2 linked regions of the Homo sapiens genome follow. The protein of the gene in region 1 interacts with the protein of each later gene in a pairwise test. Each region holds a gene or a part of one and is shown in the gene's direction. Other genes may lie near its edges.

Region 1 (8,810 bases):
AGATGATTAAGACACAGTACTGTTTTCAAGAAGCATACAGTTCACTGGGGGAGACAGATAAATTGATCAAAATGCAGAAAGTGTATAGAACCATGCCTACATATTTATACTAAAAAATCTTTTTTTAGTGATCTTTGGATGTCTCCAAAATCTAGGAGACTCTGTACGAACTAATTACAAGCACACCGTATATAATCAATGTATCCAGGGTCCCTTAATGCAACATATGCAACAAATCTCAAGAAGATGCAGAAAAAGCAATGATGAGAAGCATGACTACCTTATACCAAAATATGGCAGGAAGAAAATATTTTAAAAGCCGTTATTATTTTATAATAAAGTTTAAATTCTAAAAATAATTTCCTCTCATTAAAGTCTTTAATAAAATTAAAATTTGAATTTTCTTAAAGCAAAAAGCTTATATTCAAGTTTGGCTCTTGCTGAAGCTGAAAGTTCTATCAAGAAAAATTCTTTAGTCGTCACAACAATAGCAAGATTTGGGAAAATCTGATATATCAAATGTCTTAAATGCATAAGGAAAGTCCAATAAAGGAAGACAATTAATCCTTTAAAAAAATAAATCTAGGTCGGCCACGGTGGCTCACAGCTATAATCCCAGCACTTTGGGAGGCCGAGGCAGGCAGATCATGAGGTCAGGAGATCGAGACCATGCTGGCCAACATGGTGAAACCCTGTCTCTACTAAAATATAAAAAATTAGCCAGGCATGGTGGCACACACCTGTGGTCCCAGCTACTCAGGAGGCTGAGGCAAGGGAATCGCTTGAACCCAGGAGGCAAAGGTTGCAGTGAGCCAAGATAGTGCCACTGCACTCCAGCCTGGCAACAGAGCAAGACTCCGTCTCAAAAAACTAAATAAATAAAATAAATCTAGACTACTATCCCTGCAAATAATTTAGTCACATATCCACGTTTATTAATGTTGCAACTAAAAGAGCTACTGATATGGTCTGGCTCTGTGTCCCCAGCCAAATCTCATCTCAAATTATAATCCCCACGTGTCAAGGGAGGGAAGTGACTGGATCATGGGGCAGTTCCCCCTATGCTGTTCTCGTGATAATGAGTGAGTTCTCACTGGCAGCTTTTTCCTGTGCTCTCACTTCTCCCTCCTGCCACCTTGGTGCCTGCTTCCCCTTTGCTTTCCACCATGAATGTAAGTTTCCTGAGGTCTCCTCAGGTATGCGGAACCGTGAGTCAATTAAACCTGTTTCCTTTATAAACTACCCAGTCTCAGGCATTTCTTTATAGCAGTGTGAAAATGGACTAATATAGCTACCTTTTACTAAGTGAATGCTCCCCACTTATTTAGCAGTACCTACTCCAGGTGGACAGGCTGAATTTAACTTTCAGTTAAAGGTTTGTGCTATCAACCTTCTCCATATGACAGCTCAAGGGTAGAAATCAGGTCCACAGCAACTGCCCATTACAACTTGGCCACCAATCTCCTCACTATTCTTCAGTCAAGGTCACTCACACAGAGCAATAACATTTACTTTCTCAAACCATAATTTTCTATCATATCTTCTTTTCAAACCTAAAATAGCTTCCAAATGCTACTCAAAGTGAATGGAAAAGTCTTCATCAGCAACGAATTTTCCCATCCACTGGATGTTCCTAAGTAACCTGACATCTCTGTTCACTTCCTTTCTCCCCTTCTCTTCTTAAATACATTTTTAAAAGGCCAATTTACTCCTGATGCAGCCCCCTAGGCATGATTTGCCTGCTCTCTTTTTAAAGCCTCATAGGAACACATTCTCATATTCTTTCCACTAAACCACACTTCTTGTCTTTTTCAAAATACTGCTTAAGATTTCAAAGGAAAGGTATTAAATTTTATTTTAAAAGTATTTAAAAGCACCCACTTGCACATTACTGCTGTTAATTATAGATCCTATTCATTAATATAGAAACCTTTACTTAAAGCTAGTTTGTTGACCCAGTTTAAAAGACCATAAATACTTGAAAAATAATTCATTTTATTCTCACACATTTCTTAACTATTTACTGAGTGCCTACTATGTAAAAGACAATGCAAGAGCACATCAGGAATAACAAATGAAACACGGCTCCTACCCTCAAGGAGCGTAGACTTTCTTAAACGTTCTGTGGCATGTATTAGTTAAAAAGTATAGATATGAATAGCTTGATTTAGCCATTCCACACATATACATATATCAAAACATCACGTTATATACCATAAATATACACAAATTTTACTTGTCAATTAAAAATAAGCTTAAAAAACCTAAATTTAAATGTTTTTAAAAGGAAAAATGTATAGACTCCCAAAAAACCTGTTTATAAGTTTTAACTGCTGATATCTACCATATTAGAAACTAAAATTAAGAAATTTCTAGAGAATGAGAGTGAAAAAATAAAAAAAAGCCATTAGCATTATTATAGAAATGGTCTTGACATCATTGATCCCTTGAAAGGATCTCGGGGACCCCTCTGCCCAGTGGTTCCCAGACCACATTTCGAGAGCTGCTGGTCTCGTAGGATAAGACAGGTACATAAATCATCTTAATACACCAGAAGCACTTTTGATACACCTCTACTTAACTCACCTCTAGATTAACAAAGGCTCTCAACTGCCTGCTATTAAATATAGCGACAGATGCCCACAGTCACTATATACTAGTGGGTAATAGGTTAATCTCTAGTACTCCCACACACGTCTGCTCAAACGATGCTAGAACTTGTCTATATTAGTTTTAATAATTATGTAATCTGATTATATATTACAGAAGCCCATTAAATTGCAAGTATGAGGGGAGTTTGGGGGGTGTTTCTATAAAAACTATGTAGAATGCTTTGGTAAGATGATATAAAGTTAAGTTGTAACACAATACTGTCAAATTAGGTACAGGTGAGACAACTGGAGACTGAAAGGGAAGCACAGGAGTCTAGAAAGAGTCTGCATTTAGATAGTTTCACAGTGTCTAAGTTCTTGCTCCTTTTCAAAGAAACCAAAATCGAAAATCTAAACTAAATCATGGGGCCAGGTGCAGTGGCTCACGCCTGTAATCCCAGAACTTTGGGAAGCCGAGGAGGGCAGATCACTTGAGGCCAGGAGTTTGAGACTAGCCCAGGCAACACAAGGAAACCGTCTCTCTACTAAAAATCCAAAAAAAAAAAAAAAAGGTGGGCGTGGTGGTGCATGCCTGTAGTCCTAGCTATTTGGGAGGCTAAGGCATGAGAATTGTTTGAACTCTGTAGGTAGAGGTTGCAATGAGCTGAGATCACATCACTGCACTCCAGCCTGGGCGACAGAATGAGACTGAAAAACTAAATGATGGGTTTAATTTTTGAAAAACAAAGAAAACAGATGGTCAGTCAGTATCCTATATTCAAAGCAAAGGCCTTGTCTTACATATACATCAGCAACTAAATGTACATTTATTTTATTTTATTTTATTTCTGAGATGATGTCTCACTCTGTCACCCAGGCTGGAGTAGCTGGAGTACAGTGGTGCAATCTCAACTCACTGAAACCTCCGCCTCCCAGGTTCAAGCAATTCTCATGCCTCAGCCACCTGAGGTGCTGGGATTACAGGCGTGCGCCACCATGCCCAGCTAATTTTTGTATTTTTAGTACAGCCAGGGTTTCACCATGGTAACCAGGCAGGTCTTGAACCCCTGACCTCACGTGATCTGCCCACCTCGGCCTCCCAAAGTGCTGGGATTACAGGCGTGAGCCACCGTGCCCAGCCAACTAAACGTACATTTATAAGTTTTAAGATAAAATGTTTAAGGCAGATAGGAACTGCATATTGATATCATTTTTATGATTTCCCATCTTTTAATGTAACTGACCAATTACTGGTTATTCCATATGTGCTGTAGGATTCTTCTGTCAAGTTGAATATGTTAAAGGTCATAAAATAGAAACATACAAGAGTACTGGGATTAAACACACATGTACTTGCACACACACACACACCCACTCAGATGTCTAGCTAGAGATCAAGAAGAGTTTTTTGTTTTGTTTTGTTTTGAGATGGAGTCTCGCTCTGTTGCCTAGACTGGAGTGCAGTGGCGCGATCTTGGCTCACCGCAACCTCCGCCTCCTGGGTTCAAGCGATTCTCCTGCCTCTGCCTCCTGGGTAGCTGGGATTACAGGTATGTGCCACTGCGCCAGGCTAATTTTTGTATTTTTAGTGGAGATGGGGTTTTGCCATGTTGGCCAGGCTGGTCTTGAACTCCTGACCTCTGGTGATCCGCCCACCTCAGCCTCCCAAAGTGCTAGGATTACAGGTGTGAGCCACCACGCCAGGCCAAGAAGAGTTTTGAAGAATAAGCAATGATTGTGCTGGACCTTGAAAAATGGGTAGGATTTAGACTGGGGTGGGTGGGGGTAAGAAGGAAGAGTACTGAAGGTGGTAGGAATGGCCTCTGTGTGTCTGTGCTTGCTCGCTCTTGTGCTTGAAATGTTCAACTAAGGGGCTCACACCACCAATTACTAGAAGGACATGGTCTTGCCAGCACTCTGCAGAGAAGCCACACAAACTCATCCTACCAAAGGCTTTGGAATGGCTCAATTCATATCTTTTCCTTGGCCATTTGCTCTTCTTTGGATTCTGGGAAATAGTATGGGATTCTTTCTAAATTCTCCCCCGCACTCCTTTTTTGGCTAGATTGGTTTGTTGACTGGTTTCTGCTACTTGCAACCAAAAGAATCTTATTGAGTATGAACACACATCTTTGATGATGGTAATTTATGTATATCCCACCACCTAAAATCAGAAAAAACTCGAGAGAAAATTTTAAAGGTTATGTATATAAAGCACATCCTATAAAAAGAACTGAAGGCTTCTAGTTAAGATTCTGTCACTAAACAGCAGTGTTACTTTGGAGAAGTTATTTTACATCTCTGGGCCTCAGCATCCATAATAATGATATTACTAGAATGTCTGAGATCTCTTCTAGGTCTCTTTCACTAAATAAAAATGCTAGCCTTCCTCTCCAACTGGGGATGTTTTATTATTTCATTAGTGTTATTTTGTTTGCTCTAGTACTTTCCAAAAGACCTAGATATAATTAAATTTTCTTTGAATAGAAAGAGAATAACAAAATGTTAAGAAGCTGCCCAAGGCTTGAAAATATTTAAATTTGTGCTCTATGCTGGATTATCCTGCCCTATATCTGAACTTGACATACACTCTATGTCAAAGAACTGAGGAGAAATGATACTGGCACTTTTTTTAAAAAGTTAAGGGCATCCCTAGTTTGAAGAAGTTAAAGGAATAAGCAAGCAGCAACACTGCTTATTAGCATTGGCATGTAAGTAATGAAATCAAGTATGTTAGGAAGTCTTAGGCATCAGGAAGTTACACTCATTCATTTCCACAAGACCTTCTGGATCCAGCTGAATGTGGAGGCCTTTAAGAGAACTTCCAGCTCCTGTAAAAACCCAGACCAGAGGACTACTGACCAACATTTCAGGCTGATCCTCCAGACCTCGAAGTTACTCTCCTTACTCTCCTGACTCTTAATTACATCACACCTGTGTCGACACTCTCTGGGAAAAGACTGAAGAAATAATCTTTTCAAGAAGCAGGTACATTTAAAAGGCAAACCATTTTTAATATTCCTAGTAGTCTCCTTTCTTCTCATTTAAAATATGTTCCTAGAAGTTTTTTTGCCTGTGGTTCTGAGTTGAGGTCTACTAATAAAAGGTACTAGCATCTTAACAAACCAGTTAGGCAAACTTTCTATCCCTGTATTATTAAAAAGCTGCTCTTTACTTGTGAAGTAATATTCTGATCTCTATTTGATCTTCAGGAATTTTGCCACGCATGGTGGCTCACATCTGTAATCCCAACACTTTGGGAGGCTGAGGCAGCAGCATAGCTTGAGCCCAGCCTGGGCAACAAAGTGAGACCCAGTCTCCACAAAAAGATAAAAAAGTTAGCCAGGTATGGTGGGGTATGCCTGTGGCCCCAACTATACGGGAGTTTCCTAAGGCAGGAAGATCACCTGAGCCCAGGAGGTTGAGGTTGCAATACACTCCAGCCTGGGTGACAGAGCAAGACCCTGTATCAAAAAATAAAATTTAATTTTATAAAAGTTATAAAATAATTTGCCTAATTTTAACATCAAGCAGCCACATTGTTTTGTCTCTCCCTCTCTCTCTCATCTCCCTGCAAAATTCTTTCCCTCCTCCCTGTCTGTTAATTTTACTTTCTTGTGATACGGAGGGAATAGCTCACAGAGCTGCTCAAATATTTCATCAACTATAAGATGCTATCATTTGTAATAGCAACCATTATTTTACGTGCCACCAAGACAAAATACTGCTGCTAAACTTTGACAAGCTAACGATATTAAGATGTACCTCAGTTATAGAAATGGTAAATATGAAAAAAATGTGTGATATGATAGAGTTCTCCATCCCTAGTTTATAACTCCTCCCTACTCTGTAAGAAACCACATTTGCTCCCTTGAGCCATCACATCCTGTTCTCCTGTTCAGATCCTCTTCTCTCTTCTCCACACCACCTCATCACTGAAGACACAAGCAGATGTTAAGTGATGAGAAAATCAGAAGGAACAGTGGCAGGCGCTAGTATACGGTAACAGAGACCCTCTTTAGTCATTTACTTCCTAACTGTACTACCTTTACAAGAGTTTTCAAAGTTATGCCCTTCATTTTGAGATTGTAGATAATGGTTATTAGCTTAAAATATCTTCTTCCCAAAGAGAAAGTAAAATTGCATTTTGCCAAATAGCACTATAAAAATGAGTTCTGTACAATATTATAATTTTAATGTTCATTTGATGGCTTACATAAGTGCTATGCTCATCTGGTTACAATAGAATTTTCCAGTAAATAATAACGCACAGGTTATATTTCAAAAAAAAACTTCATTTTTAAAAAACTTAAGGTATGACTTCTGCTTACAAAATTATAAAACACAGGTTTCCCTGAAATACTCATTTTCCAAAGTACATGTAAAACATGAATTAATATGACTTATAAATTGTCAAGATTGCCTCTGTAGTGAAAATCAAAGAAATGTGGAATGGAATTTCACCTGAACTTCTGAGCTAGTCTGTTGTCTTTATTTGTGCTCCTTTTGACACATAGTGCCTTATGTTTTTCTATACTCCTCAAATGAAGCTAAAACATTTACCAATGTAGGCAATTTTCCTGGGCTTCCTTGAAGACGCAGTTCAACACTGCAAAATATTTACAGCTGTATTCTTTGGACTGCAATGACATGTTCACACGACCTTGTGGCCAGAGGTTACGTCCTATTAGTCCTAGGAAGGTTCAAGTACTTGGCACAGTTTGTGAGATGCTGTGGTCAATCAGTTACATAAAGTGGCTGCCATAGTACTTTTGTTAGTGTAATACCAGTAGCAGACAACATTTAGAGCAGATAAATTTTATATTTCAAAATAGAACTAAAATTTGGACACTCAAAAAGAATTACATTAACATGGGAAAATCCTTGATTCTTAAAACATGTCAATAATTAGACAGTGTAATTTTTATTTTTAACACACAAAAGAAGCCAACACAAAATATTCATACCTCAATATCAAAATGAATGTTTCTTACATTCAGTGCTATTGACAAGAGGCAATGAAGCAAGTACATGTTAAAAAAAAAGAAACTCAGCTTGTGAAAGGCAGAGGAAGGTCAAAACACAGATCAATAAACAAAAAAACAAAAAAAAAATGTGGGCAAGTCCAAGGCAGAGATATACTGTCAGATTTAAGTAAAAAGTTGACAGCAGCTTCTCTAGCTTTTACTTTCTTTCTAAGGTAATGGGAATGAAATCCTTTTAAAAGACAAGCAGAGAAGCATGCAGCTGACAACAACCAAGATTTGATAGCAGGGGAGAATGTGGAGACAGAAGCTCCCTGTTCTTATCAAACGCAGCTTCTAAAACCATTCCTTTTCCTTGAAGAGTGTCTGAATTTTATAGAGGAATGATCTGTTAAGTCTAGGAGAATTATCATACTTTTTGTATCTTCCAGTCGGGAGGGATAACCTCCTGGTAAGGTTTCACTTCCTTCCATGGCATGGGAGTATCTCTGGCATATAAATGGAGCAAGTGTATATATTACAATGATGTCCTGCATCAATCACGGGATGACAAAGACCTCATTTCCCATAAGGAGTTGGTAAAAAGATGGGAATTCCTGCTGGAATGAGTTCTGCCTTATGCAGATGGTAGGACATTAGTATTACCTCATAGTGGAAGGTTCTGCCAGAGTTTAGTTAGGCATTGGACCCAATTAACTATAGGATATACTCATACTAAGGACCAGTTTAAATTCTCAAAGTTGGTTATATATGATTAAAGCTGTCTAAGACAGAGGTGATCTAACTCTAATAAAGAGTTAAGGTACTGAGTAGGAAACAGGACCCCAATCTTTCAAATTTTTATATGTTTTTGCCTGCAAAGGCAGATAAAATCTTCAAATCTAGTGGCCAAGTGGATCCAGGTAAGCTAATCTTTGACATGTGTGGTTTAAACCCTTCTGCTGAAACCATTAAATTGAGCAGTTCCGGTTTGTATCTGCAAGGCAGAGAAACATAGTCCCATGATCCAGGGATGTCTCCCTTGGTATAGGTACTGAAGCACCATTTTTATAGTTTTAGGGCTGTGGAGACCTTACAGATATTACCTTGGACAAGCAACACCCACTCGCCACCCCCTAGCAAGTAAATATAAATTTAGAATAGACTAAAACGAGATAATCTGGCTTTCTCCTAAGGGGCATGTGTACCACCACAGGCAGCAATGATCAATGAACTCCTATAATTTCCATGAACT
Region 2 (8,653 bases), on another chromosome or scaffold:
TTTTTTCATAAAAATATTTTTTATGATTAATCTTAAATTGTATCTATGTATATATTTGAATATTATAGATAAGTAATTGTGAAAGTATCCTCACAACAGAAAAAGGAAACCATTAACATAACCTCTAATTTGCCTTTCTACTCTTTTTTATTTAATCTTTTAAATAAAAATGTGTTCATTGTAAAAAATCAACATAATTTAGAAATGTATAATACAGAGGACCAAACCAGTCTCTTCATGCACATATTTCCATGCTTATAATTGCAGTACACATATAATTTTATATGTTGCTTTTTCAGGCTTATTAAATCATAAATATTTTCACCAGGTTGCCACGTGATCTCTAAAATCAATATTTTAATGACAGCACCATAATCCATTGAGTGAGTTTTCGATCATTTACTCATGTCTTCATATGACTGTCTTTTAGATTGTCTTCAACATTTACCATTGTAATGGGCAGCTTCAGGCATATAGTTCTTTCTCATAATTCTGAATCATATTCGTAAATAAATGGTCGGGGTAGAATTATTGAGTTCAAGACTTTAAATATATACCATCCAGTTGCTTTCCAAAGAGTTGTAAGAATGTATCACTGTCATTGTGACAAGAGGGACAGGTAAAAATAAATTCATTCCATGTAAAAATAAAATTCACAGAACCGTATCTTCTAGGTTCTACAGTTTTTACGGCCCCAGATATCAGATGAAAAACATGAGAAGACTAGTGAAAAACTTAAGAGTATAGATGAGATACTCTTTTAATCTCTCATGCAAGGTGAATTGGTAGTTAAATTGGGCATTACAGAGCACAGCTTTAAATTTTACTTTAAGCTTAGGTGGCTACTTCGCTCCTTGTTCTTGTTCAAGTGTTTTAACTTAAAATACAGAATCTTTTAATGTAGGTAAGCTTTTGTTTTGTTTTGTTTTTTTGAGACAGAGTCTCACTGTTGCCCAGGCTGGAGTGCAGTGGTTCAATCATAGCTTATTGCAGCTTGGACCTCCCAGGCTCAAGTGATCCTTCCACCTCAGCCGACTATAATAGGCACAAGCCACCACACCCAGCTAATTTTTTTTTTTTTTTTTTTTTTTTTTTAGTTTTTGTAGAGACAGCATCTTGTTGCCCAGGCTGGTCTCGAACTCTGGGGCTGAAGTGATTCTCCCTCTTCAGCCTCCCAGAGTTCTGGGATTATAGGCACGAGCCACCATGCCCAGCCTTAATGTTGGTAAGCTTCTTGATGTAAGTTTTGTGATGCTTATAAGCAAAGATTCAAGTTATATTTTTAAAAGTTAGTTTTTTTTTTACCTAACAAATATTTGTCTAATGTTATTAATGACACATTCTTTTCTTCTTCAGAAAACAGCCTTCCACAGAAGTCAGACGCTGAGCTACAGGAACGGCTATGCAATTGTTCGACGTCCAACAGTTGGGATAGGCGGAGACCGGCTCCAGTTCAACCAGCTGTCCCAGGCTGAGCTGGATGAGTTGGCCAGTAAGGCACCAGTCTTAACTTATGGCCAACCTAAACAAGCCCCACCTGCGGATTTTATTCCTGCGCATGTGGCCTTTGACAAAAAGGTATCATCTGGAATTTTAGGGTACCCCTTGAATTAGGGTCTGAGAGCCAACTGCTTGCAAAAAAGTTAAAACAGTAAACCACAGAATTTCCAAAGGGCTCTGAGGAGAAAATTGTTCAGATGCCTTAACCCTTAGTCATGGACAGCTGAACTCAGGCTAAAAAGAGGCTTTCTTTAGTCAGGAAGCTGATTACAGGGAGTAAAGTAGTTCCCTGTAGACTTCACCAGACTATTTTCCAAATGCAGTTAAAGAAAAGTTGGCTATAATTCTGAATTCTTGAATTTATATTCTATGTTTATCAGCCGTGTGTTCTCCACTTTTTAAAGGTAACTGTATTCTGTAATGGTGACATATCTAATCTTCATGAGATGCAGAATATCATTATGAAAACAATGACTCCATCTATTGTCAGTTTTCTGCAAGGCAGTCTCCATAAGTTTTTGGTTTTCAGGGAACATTTCATGTTTGATATTACATAACCAATGGGTGGTATAACATTTTTGTTTGTTTCTCATTTATCTTTATGTTTTTGCAATGTGAGTTTCCTCATTTCCATCTATTGACATTACCACATCATTCTTGTTTTTCCTTGTCAATGAGCCTCCTCTTTTCACTAAAGTGAAGTAGCCCTAGCCCTGACCATGTAGCAGAATCACTGGCGAGATTTTTAAGAAAGTTACGTTATTCCAACCCTCATCAGTTCTAATTTCCAGATGAGCTTTATGTGTAACTGGTTCTGAGAAGTACTGATCAGTTTTGATAAGTTAGCTTTCTTAATTTACTCTTAGTCTGTTTCTTTTCTTGTCTTAATTTTTATTTTATTATTCCTGTTAAATGTCTATAACATTTTCATCCAGCCAGCCAACTTTTATTGAGTACCTGTTGTAAGCTAGAGGCTGGGGAGGAGCTATGCCATTTACATGATAGTCACTTATTTTTAAACAATTTCAGTCTCTCAACTAGAATCTGTATCATTTCCTCTTCCCCACTTAACTCATTTATAGGGACACATTCACATATGCATTCATAGGCCGAACCTAAACATCCACTAAACAGTATGATTTATATAATTGGATGTATCTTTTCCTTTTGCTTGTTTCTTTTGTTTATTTGTGGCTTTGACAGACATTGCAAAATCAGCAGAGAAGGGAGAGGGCTGAAAATACAAGAGAGAAGTGGGATAGGCACTAAATAATTACCAAGATATGAATCCTGGTATGTTTAATTTTTACTGAAAAGAATAGTAAGTAACTGTTATAAAGTAGAAGGTGATAAAGTGATATATGTCGTAAGAAAGTATTAGTAAAATTCAGAGGAGAAATTGCGCTTGAGTAGGAAATAGGCTTCCTATTTTTTGTTTTCTATGTTATTTTACACTAATTGTTGTTACTTAATTTGTACTTATTTAATATTCATAATTCATTTCTTTAAGGATAGTGCACATAAAAATATTATTTTTATTTTCCAATTCATTTTACTTGGATCATCACAATTTCTAGATAAATGAGCCTTAGCATAGATAATGGGGTAGAGAGAAGCTAAATGCATGACTTTGAAACTAAGTTTGTTTGTTTATAATAAGGGAATTATGGTTTCTCTGAATTAAATGAAGGTTCTAATTTTAAATGAAGGACCTCTAATACCCAGAGGTCCACATAATAGCCAACATATTTGTCTATATTTTGGAAATTCTTAGGACTGTTCCTCATAGACAGAATATAACTTCATTTCTTACTTAGGTAATAAAGACCAGGACATCTATTCCAAGTGCCCTCATCTTTTCCCCTTGCTCCTGTATAATTCCAGCATCACCTACTATATTGTGTTTCCCAGACTGACTTCCAGCTCTTTATTTCTGATGTTCTTCTTTCATCTTTTTCATCTTCAAGTTTCATATTATTTCTATTTCAGACACTCTAGTGACTGCTTCTCTAGCTAGAGTCATATCATCCTGTCCTCTTTCTATAATACCTTGTGATGCCTTTAAGCAAGATAACTTTGTTTCTCACTTGACTGTCAAATCACTTACAATCTGACTTCTCCCTACCCACAGCCCCAGAATACTTTCTCCTAGGTAGCCAGTGCTGTCCTTTTACCAGATCTAGAGAGGTTTACTTTGCCAGCATTGTCTTTGGCTTGTTTATGCCATCTGACACTGTTGACCCTTCCTCCCTTCTTGAAACTGTGCTCTTCTTTTGCCTCCATGACTCTCATTTTCCTCCTTCTTTCTATGTGGTTGCTTATTCTTTAGCCTCCCTTCCTCTTTTCAATTCTTAACTTACAAGTATTTTCAAGGCTCTATCTCATTCTTTATATAATTTTCTTGAGATCTCACCCACTTTCGTGATTTCAACCGTCACCTCACCGTAGAGAATGTCACTATTTAGTTCCAACTCTGACATCATTGAGACTCCAGATCTGTATCCCCCTGGCCCATGGGATATCTTCACCTGGATGAACTGTTGGTACCTCAAGTTCTGTATGTCTCTAACTTATCTCTATCCCTCACCTTTTCCCATAGATCTGCTTTCCCTGTGTGGTTCCACTAGGTAATCCAAGCTTGAAACCTGAGCCATCTTTGGCTTTTTCTCTCCTTTATCCTCCACACTTAATGAGTTGCCAAGTCAAATATCTCTCACTTTCATTTCCTCTGCCACTATCATAGTTCAGACAAGCCAAATGACTACCTAACTGTTGTTTTAGTCTCATTCCTAGTCCTTATGCTTATAACAGGTATGCTGCCTTGTTTATTCTCTAGAGTTCAGCTCTGATTATGTCATTTTTCTGGGAAAATGCCATCAGGCTTTCTTAACCAATACAGTAAACATTACCACCATTCACCTCACTGTGACATGAAAGTCATCTTTCATTCTTCTTTCCCCTCACAATCCACATCTAATCTATTAGCAAGTTCTATTGTTTCTGCTTCTAAAATATGTAACTAATTCATTTACTTATTTTCATCCTCACTATTACCATAAATTTATTTTCCACAGAGCAGCCAGGCTTATTTTTTGAAAATCAGATTATGTCACATACTGACTGAAACACTTCCATGGCTTCCCTATCATCTATAAAGATCCAACTCTACAGGTTCCTCACAGCCCTACTGGAGCTGGCCCTCCCTGCTCTCTCCCCAGCCTCATCTTGGGTCCTTTTTCTCACCTATCATGTTTCAATACATTGGATTTATTTTTACTGATTTCCTTGAAATGGCAGCATTTGAAAATTCCAATTCAGGGCCTTTTTGTACATGGCATTTCTCCTATCTGAAATAGCTTCCCCACCATCCTTAAGTGGCTGACTCCATCTTTCCTTTCAGTGAGGCTTTTCCTGGCCACTCTGCTATGGCAGTTCCTCCTCATTTTTCTATATCACTTCCCTCTCTTTTTTTTTTTTCCCCTTTGCAGCACTATATTATAATTTGTGTTGCTGATTTGTTTAGTGTTTATCTGTCCCACCTGAGTGTATACTTCATGAAGGTAAGGACTTATATAGTTTATTATATATTTAGTGCTCAATAAATATCAGTTCTAAAATGACATGAATAATTAACAAAATTTATTTCTTGTCTGTGTCACTGCTGAAAATTGGCAAGTCAAACACGTACCATATATGCTTATAATAATGTAAAATTAAAAATGTGACTTGGCTTTTTATAATTGTGTGTGATATGAAAATATTTATGCAGCATTTCCCCCCTTCATCTTGAAGTAAATACAAATATTTTTATGTTTATTGTGGCATTCTGAGCACTTCCTGGGAGTTAGAAGACCTGGATTCTAATTCTGGGTCTCCTACCAGCTAACATTGTGACCTTGTAGTCACAATCTCTAATTTCCTCGTCTATAAACTCAGAAGGTTAGAATACATGATAATCAGGAGCCCAGCCTGCTATAAAATTCCATGAAAAGTATATTTTTAAACACAGTATTTAAATATAATTTTTCTTTTCTTTCTACGTAACAATCAAGTTCTTATTCTACCTGGGAAAGCTGATGTTATCCCACTACTTTAAAAACAATTTTTTTTATTTCCATAGGTTACTGGGGAACAGGTCGTGTTTGGTTACATGAGTAAGTTCTATAGTGGTGATTTGTGAGATTTTGGTGCACCCATCACCCAGGCAGTATACAGTGCCCCCAATTTGTAGTCTTTTATCCCTCACCCCCTTCCCACCCTTTCCCCCTGAGTCCCCAAAGTTCATTGTGTCATTCTTATGCCTTTGCATCCTCATACCTTAGCTACCACTTATGAGTGAGAACATACAATGTTTGGTTTTCTATTCCTGAGTTACTTCACTTAGAATAATAGTCTCCAGTCTCATCCAAGTCACTGTGAATGCTATTAATTCATTCCTTTTTATGGCTAAATAGTATTCCATCATATATATCACATTTTCTTTGTCCACTTATTGATTGATGGGTATTTGGGTTGGTTCCATATTTTTGCAGTTGCAAATTGTGCTGCTATAAACATGCATGTACAAGTATCTTTTTTGTATGATGAGTTCTTTTCCAATGGGTAGATACCCAGTAGTGGGATTGCTGGATCAAATGGTGGTTCTACTTTTAGTTCTTTGAGGAATCTTCACACTTTTAGTTCTTTAAGGAATCTTCCATAGTGGTTGTACTAGTTTACATTCCCACCAGCAGTTCCCAGTTCATTGCATCCACACCAACATCTAATATTTTATGATGTTTTGATTATGGCCATTCTTGCAGGACTAAGATGATATCACATTGTGGTTTTGATTTACATTTCCCTGATCATTAGTGATGTTGAACATTTTTTCATATGTTTGTTGGCCATTTGTATATCTTCTTTTGAGAATTGTCTATTCATGTCCTTAGCCCACTTTTTGATGGGCTTCTTTGTTTTTCCTTGCTAATTTGTTTGAGTTCATTGTAAATTCTGGATATTAATCTTTTGTCAGATGTATAGATTATGAAGATTTTTTCCCACTCTGTGGGTTGTCTGTTTACTCTGTTGACTGTTCCTTTTGCCGTGAAAAAGCTCTTTAGGTTAATTAAGTCCCAGCTATATATCTTTGTTTTTATTGCATTTGCTTTTGGGTTCTTGGTCATGAAACCCTTGCCTAAGCCAATGTCTAGAAGAGGTTTTCCAATGTTATTTTCTAGAATTTTTATAGTTTCAGGTCTTAGATTTAAGTCCTTGATCCATCTTGAGTTGATTTTTATATAAGGTGAGAGATGAGGATCCAGTTTTATTCTCCTACTTGTGGCTTGCCAATTATCCCAGCACAATTTGTTGAATAGGGTGTCCTTTCCTCACTTTATGTTTTTGTTTGCTTTGTCAAAGATCAGTTGGCTGTAAGTATTTGGCTTTATTTCTGGGCTCTCTGTTCTATTCCATTGGTCTATGTGCCTATTTTTATACCAGTACCATGCTGTTTTGGTAACTATGGTCTTATAGTATAGTTTGAAATCAGGTAGTGTGATGCCTCCAGGTTTATTCTTTTTGCTTATTCTTGCTTTGGCTATGCGGGCTCTTTTTAGGTTCTATATGAAGTTTAGGATTGTTTTTTCTAATTCTGTGAAGAATGATAGTGGTATTTTGATGGGAATTGCATTGAATTTTTAGATTGCTTTTGGCAGTATGGTCATTTTCACAATGTTGATTCCCACCCTATCAGCATGGAATGTGTTTCCATTATTTGTTTCATTATTTGTGTCATCTGTTATTTCTTTCAGCAGTGTTTTGTAGTTTTCCTTGTAGAGGTCTTTCACCTCCTTGGTTATGTATATTTCTAAGTTTTTGTTTGTTTGTTTGTTTTTCAGCTATTGTAAAAGGGGTTGAGTTCTTGATTTGATTCTCAGCTTGGTCGCTGTTGGTGTAAAGAAGAGCTACTGATATGTGTATATTAATTTTGTATCCAGAAACTTCGCTGAATTCTTTTATCAGTTCTAGGAGCTTTCTGGAGGAGTCTTTAGGATTTTCCAGGTAAACAATCATATCATCAGTGAACAGTGACAGTTTGACTTCTTTACCTATTTGGATGACCTTTATTTCTTTCTGTTGTCTGATTGCTCTGCCTAGGACTTCTTCTAGTACTGTGCTGAAGAGGAGTGGAGAGAGTGGGCATCCTTATGTTGTCCCAGTTCTCAGAGGGAATGCTTTCAACTTTTCCCCATTCAGCATTATGTTGGCTGTGGGTCTGTCATAGATGGCTTTTATTACATTGAGGTATGTCCCTTGTATCAATTTTGCTGAGAATTTTAATCAGAAAGGGGTACTAGATTTTGTTGATTGCTTTTTCTGCATCTATTGAGATGATCGTGTGATTTTTGTTTTTAATTCTGTTTATGTGGTGTATCACATTTATTGACTTGCGTATGTTAAATCATCCCTGCATCCCTGGTATGAAAACCACTTAATCGTGGTGGATTATCTTTTTCATATGTTGTTGAATTCGGTTAGCTAGTATTTTGTTAAGGATTTTAGCATCTATGTTCATCAGGGATATCAGTCTATAGTTTTATTTTTTGGTTATGTCCTTTCCTGGTTTTGGTATTAGGGTGATACTGCCTTCATAGAATGATTTATGGAGGATTCCCTCTTTCTCTATCTTGTAGAATAGTGCCAATAGTACCAGTTTTTCTTTGAATATCTGGTAGAATTCTTCTGTGAATCTGTCTGGTCCTGGACTTTTTCCTGCTGGTAGTTTTTTAATTATTTCAGTCTTGCTGCTTGTTGTTGGTCTGTTCAGGGTATCTAATTCTACCTGAATTAAGCTAGCAGGGTTTTATCTTTCAGGAATTTATCTATCTACTCTAGTTTTCTAGTTTATGTGCGTAAAGGTGTTCATAGTAGCCTTGAATGACCTTTTGTATTTCTGTGGTGTCAGTTGTAATATCTTCCATTTTGTTTCTAATTGAGCTTATTGGATTTTCTCTCTTCTTTTCTTGGTTAATCTTGCTAATGGTCTATCAATTTTATGTAGCTTTTCAAAGAACCAGCTTTTTGTTTCATTTATCTTTTGTTTTTTTTGTTTGTTTATTTCAATTTCATTTGTTTCTGCTTTGATCTTGGTTATTTTCTTTCTTCTGCTGGG

Evidence for each region.
Region 2: the proteins of KCTD4 (region 1) and EFHC1 interact in binary tests that used the Homo sapiens proteins (3 or more experiments, as listed by UniProt).

Annotation. Positions count from the first base shown.
Region 1 is NC_000013.11:45,197,593-45,206,402, reverse strand, and holds the start of KCTD4 (BTB/POZ domain-containing protein KCTD4), read left to right. Parts: upstream 1-5,357; 5' UTR 5,358-5,579; intron 5,580-8,810.
Region 2 is NC_000006.12:52,422,590-52,431,242, forward strand, and holds part of EFHC1 (EF-hand domain-containing protein 1), read left to right. Parts: intron 1-1,097; exon of another isoform or gene 1,098-1,219; coding exon of another isoform or gene 1,220-1,225; intron 1,226-1,356; coding exon 1,357-1,578; intron 1,579-8,653. UniProt on the Homo sapiens protein: Microtubule inner protein (MIP) part of the dynein-decorated doublet microtubules (DMTs) in cilia axoneme, which is required for motile cilia beating.